2 separate regions of the Homo sapiens genome follow, and region 1 is linked to region 2. The links come from fine-mapping of genetic effects on gene expression. Tissue or cell type: whole blood. Region 2 holds a variant in brackets; the other region holds the start of a gene. All regions are shown on one strand. Distances are from middle to middle. Region 1 holds the start of MORC2-AS1 (MORC2 antisense RNA 1). Region 2 has its middle 30 kb from the start of TUG1.

Region 1 (2,830 bases), 77 kb before region 2:
TATCCTCTGGGGGAGGATTAATATCACAAAAATGTCAATGCTCCCAAAACTTCCATTTAAATTTAATGCAATTATAATTTAAATCCCAATGGAACACTTTCTTTTAGGCAGGGATGGGAACGAACTGGATAATGCGATTAAATATTTCATGTGAGAGAATACATTCTAAGACTGGAAAAGCATTTTTTAACAAGTGAGGGAGACTGATCTATTTAGATGCTGATGACGCCCAAAATTATAGTTTCAGCCAGAACCTCACCCCTCACATCAGACTCACTTGTGCAACTGACCACAGATGTCTCCACTGGCGTCTAAGCGGGATCTCAAACTCAACAGGTCCACACCTGTTGGCTCATTTAGTAAGAGGCTCATTTAATAAGTGGGGCTGGAATAAGTTAATTTCCACCTGGGGGCGGGAGACGCTTGACTCTTGCCTTACAGCTTATACTAAAATATATTCCATAAGGACTATAGGTTGTCTAGTAAAAAATAAATAATAAACATTGCAACAAAATGTAAGAGAATATCGGGGGAAGGGGAGAAGAGAGAAGGGGATTGATTTCCCTAAGCATGATAGGAATCCCCAAAACTTTAAAACATTTACCTTTCAACAAACACCATAAACCAAGCCAAGGACAAACGCATAGAAAACGGACTAATGTTAACTAAGTCCAAGAGGCTTCAGGCGCTTGGCCTCGGGTCAAAAGGGAGACATACAGGCTGGCTCTTCCGGGCAAGAGGAAAAACACGCAGCTTCCTTTCCAAGTGTTCTTCCTTTCAGAGATAAAAGCGCCGACCCTAAGGACATCTGTTCAACGAATGTTTTTCCCTAATGACCCCCGGAAAGTTGGAAAGCCGGGGTAGAAAAGATTTCTTCTGCACTTTGACTTAATTAATGCGCAGCAGCTTGCAGGAAAAAAAAAAAATCCTCGCTTCTCTGTTTCGGGTGTGAGTGGGCCATTGCTCTCCCTGTAAGGAGCTACTAGAGACGCTGAGGCAGGAGAATCGCTTGAACCCTGGAGGCGGAGGTTGCAGTGAGGCGAGATGGCGCCACTGCACTCCAGCCTGGGCGACAGAGCGAAACTGTCTCAAAAAAAAAAAAAAAAAAAAAGTAGGGGATTAGAGCTGGCCACGGCTTCCCCAGAAACCTGCAGTTACTGGAGTAGGAAGAGGCCTCGGAGAATCCCTGGAAGCATCTACCTAAAAGACGCGAGGAAACCCCCAAAGGCCACAGGCACCTGCACCAAACCCTGAGTGCCGCAGGAAGCTCGCGAGGCTTCCAAAGCGCATGCGCAGGTCACGGTACGGGCACGTGCGGCGCGCCAGCAAAACCACGCAGGCGTCTTGTCGCTTCCGCCTCGAGCGTGTGGCGGGATTGCGGAAGCCCTCCACAGTTCATAACCGTTGGCTGGTTATGAACCGTTCATAACGGGCGTTAATAACCATACCCTGTTAGACTAAGCATGGTCCACCCGCGAATCCTCTACAGAGATGGCCAAGCGCTGGGGTCGTGGCTGCGTCCTCTAGGCCAGGTGAGAATTTACAACCCACCCTCGGCCACTGTTGTGCTGTGGCCGCTGATGATTAAGCATGAGGAACTCAGAAACTCTGAACCTTCTGACAAACGGGTTCTCCCCTGCCCACCGCGGTGCCCCAAACCCAGCAGGACAGATTGGTTTACATGGTGGGGCATTGGGGAGGACCCAGAGCTTTCAATAAGGGAAGAAATGATGTGGGGAGGGACAGTAAATCAAAGTAGGGGATTAGGCCGGGCGCTGTGGCTCACGTCTGTAATCCCAGCCCTTTGGGAGGCTGAGGCAGATGGATCTCTCGAGACTGGGAGTTCTAGACCAGCCTGGCCAACATGGCGAAACCCCATCTCTACTAAAAATACGAAAATTAGCCGGGCGTGGTGGCGCGCGCCTGTAATTCCAGCTACTAGAGAGGCTGAGGCAGGAGAATCGCTTGAACCCTGGAGGCAGAGGTTGCAATGAGGCAAGATGGCGCCACTGCACTCCAGCCTGGGCTACAGAGCGAGACTGTCTCAAAAAAAAAAAAAAAAAAAAGTAGGGGATTAGAGCTGGCCACAGCTTCCCCAGTAACCTGCAGTTACTGGAGCAGGAAGGGGCCTCGGAGAATCCCTGGAAGCATCTCAACAGAATCCAGAGGGGACAAGAAAAGAGGAGGGATACGTCTGTCGCATCCTTCCCTTCTCATTGATCCAAGTTTGCACTAGTGGTGTGAGCCCTCCTTATCTTCCAGGCCTTGGTGGGCAGCTGTTGACATGTCCAGAACCCCAGGAAGTGCTGAAGGTACCTGCAGTTCAGGCCCCATGGAAGCCCAGACCTCCTTCACCCTTCGGGGACACTGAAATTGGCCAAATGTTTAGGCCATGAGGATGGCTGCTGAGTAAGCCCATAATCCCTACATCGGACACAAGTAAGCAGGTGAAGGCCTACAGGTAGCAGGTAGGGGCCAGTGAATCTTGGAAGCAAAGATTTGGGGGTCAAGAACAGCAGGGAGCTCTGGGCCCCCATCCTAGCTTCAACCAGAGCAGCTCCAGGACTCCTGGCTTTCCATATGGGCTTCTGGATAAATTTTAGGTACTCCTGAGGCTGAATAAGCTGGAAAGCCTCTGCCATCACCCAACTCCGTTATTTTAGAGGAGGAACAGGAGCCAAAATGGGCAGTGACTTGTCTGAGGCCTTGCCAGCTTGAAGAAGGAAATGTCCGCTGAACCCAACAGTGGCCCTGGTAAGGCCTGGTGCATTGCAAGTTACCGGATGAAAATGGTGACTGGCCGGGTGCAGTGGCTCATGCCTGTAATCCC
Region 2 (2,912 bases):
AAGGTGGGAGAACAGCTCTCAAGTCGGCCTCCCTGAAAATAAGGTTTAGGAATGTTTATGGATTAGAGAAGCGGAGAGGTCTAAGGCGTAGGAAGAGATGATTGACATTGAGGAAAAATGAATTGGTGATCTGTGCAAATGTAGTTGGGGTCATGGCTTTTTATAGGATGCATGTTCAGAAAATGGCTGCGTTAGCATCATCAGAGGATAGAGTTTTTCTCCCTGTAATTCCAGAAGGCTACCTCAGGGGCATTTGCACATGCCCAGTTGAAGGGTTAGTGGTCTCAACCAGTTTGAACTGGACAGGAGCTGTCCCCAAGCTCCTGAAAAGCAACCTAAGCAATCATTAATTACCATGGCAACATATACTTCAGAAATGTTATCTGTAAGGAAGTCAGTGAAGGTCGTTACTGTGTTAAGCAGTGTGACTTTTAGCTACCTGGGTAAAATAATAATAATAATAGACAGCCGGGCACAGTGGCTCACGCCTATAGTCCCAGCACTTCCAGAGGCTGAGGTGCTGAGTGGATCCCTTGAATCCAGGAGTTCGAGACCACCCTGGGCAACATGGCGAAACCCATCTCTACTAAAAATACAAAAAATTAGCCAGGCATGTTGGTGCATGCCTATAATCCCAACTACTTGGGGGCTGAGGCAGGAGGATCACTTGAGCCCAGTAGGTTGAGGCTGCAGTGAGCCCTGATTGGGCCACCACACTCCAGCCTGGGCGACAGAGCGAGACCCTGTCTAAAATGACCACCACCACAAAAAAAGCAAAAAACAAGCGAGTGACCAAAAGCAGCAAGCAGGGCAGGTTAAGTTTGGCAGACCTAATCAGATTAGCCCCTTGGTTTCTTGAACCTATCAATGACTTTTTTTCAGACGGCATCTCAGTCTTTCGCTCAGGCTAGAGTACAGTGACACCATCATAGTTCTTTGCAGCCTCCAACTCCTGGGCTCAAGGGCTTAAGAGATCCTTCTGCCTCAGCCTCCTGAGTAGTTGGGACTACAGGCCTGAGCCACCGGCCTGGCTTGTATTTTTAAACCATAAAGTTATTTTCATAAAAGAAAGCCAAATATACGTAAAAGGATATTGCTGACATCATTTATAATAACAAAAAAAGTCAAACAACTGAAATGTCTATCAATAAGAGAATGGAATAGTTATATTATGGCACCCCCATAAAATACTGTGTTGCTGTTGAAAAGAGTAATGTAGATTTATGTGAAGGAACATGGAAAAATACTTTAAAAAGCAAGTTGCAGAAAAATACATTCTCATTTTTATGGGGGAAAATAGTTCAGTTTAAATTACCCAACTTCAATTCAAAGGGCTGGGAATTAAAAAAAAGAGAGAGAGAGAGAGAGA[C/G]ACAGACATAGACAAAGAGATAGAGATATACATATGTGTTTATGTATAGGTATATGTACGTATGAGTATATATATTTCAACCTGACCCCTAAATGCAAACTGATACTAAACAAAAAAAAATGTATTTCCTGATGTAGGAAAATTAGTTGGACTTACTAAGGAAGGTACAATATGTGTTAAGACTGCACATACTGAATTTTATGAAACATGAACTATTTGAGGCAATTTTTAATAATAATAAATTTTACATTATGACCTGACAACTTTAGAAGCTACCACCTCATGACCACATAAGACATTATTACTTTACTCCTTATATGGGGACCAGAAATTATAGAAAGATGGAAACCTATCACTCAACAGATGCGGGACAGACTGCTACTTTGTATTTTGTTTGTTTGTTTGTTTTTTGGGACAGAGTCTCACTCTGTTCCCCAGGCTGAAGTGCAGTGGCTGGCTATCTTGGCTCACTGTAGCCTCTACCTCCCAGGTTCAAGCGATTCTCCTTCCTCAGCCTCCCAAGTAGCTGGGATTACAGGCGCCCATCACCACACCCAGCTAATGTTATGTATCTTTAGTAGAGATGGGGTTTCCGCATGTTGGCCAGGCTGGTCTCGAACTCCTGACCTGAGGTGATCCACCTGCCTTGGCTTCCCAAAGTGCTGGGATTACAGGCATGAGCCAGCATGCCTGGCCCAGACTGTTACTGTGTGGGTTTTTTTGTTGTTGTTTATTTGTTTTTTTTGAGATGGAGTTTCACTCTTGTTGCCCAGGCTGGAGTGCAATGGCGTGATCTCAGCTCACCACAGCCTCTGCCTCCCGGGTTCAAGCGATTCTGCTTCAGCCTTCCAAGTAGCTGGGATTACAGGCATGTGCCACCACACCAAGCTAATTTTGTATTTTTAGTAGAGACGGGGTTTCCCCATGTTGATCAGGTTCGAACTCCCGACCTCAAGTGATCTGTTCGCCTCGGCCTCCCAAAGTGCTGGGATTACAGGTGTGAGCCACCACGCCTGGCTGTTACTTTGACTATGTACTCACATACAGTTTTATATTTGAATTTGTACAATTTATTACATACTTTATAACTTTTTAATTATAAAAATGTCTGTATTTATATATCTTTCTAAGTACATATATATTCGTAAAACACTATTTTTAATGGTTCCATATAGTTAGACACTTAAGTTTGTATAAATTTTTTTTTTTTTTTTTTTTTTGAGATGGAGTCTCGCTCTGTTATCCAGGCTGGAGTGTAGTGGTGCGATTCGGCTCACTGAAAGCTCCGCCTCCCGGGTTCACGCCATTCTCCTGCCTCAGCCTCCCGAGTAGCTGGGACTACAGGCGCCCGCCACCACGCCCAGCTAATTTTTTGTATTTTTAGTAGAGACGAGGTTTCACCATTGCCAGGATGGTCTCGATCTCTGACCTCGTGATCTGCAGACCGTGGCCTCCCAAAGTGCTGGGATTGCAGGCGTGAGCCACCACGCATGGCCAAGTTTTTATAATTTTTTATAATTAGGAACATTCTTACACATAAACT

The links.
Region 1: it holds the start of MORC2-AS1, and the variant in region 2 is fine-mapped to the expression of MORC2-AS1 in whole blood (INTERVAL, PIP above 0.99). The same link has a PIP of 0.9 or more in CD4 T cells.

What each region holds. Positions count from the first base shown.
Region 1 is chr22:30,920,984-30,923,813 of GRCh38, forward strand. It overlaps MORC2-AS1 (MORC2 antisense RNA 1), which reads left to right and starts at 1,325. Exons shown (of 2, transcript NR_026920.1): 1 at 1,325-1,532. It overlaps LOC107985544 (a long non-coding RNA gene), which reads right to left and starts at 796. Exons shown (of 3, transcript NR_146603.1): 1 at 605-796.
Region 2 is chr22:30,998,238-31,001,149 of GRCh38, forward strand. No RefSeq gene overlaps it. Among named protein-coding and RNA genes, the nearest start is that of TUG1, 30 kb to the left of the region's middle. The variant C/G (reference allele first, on the strand shown) is at 1,370.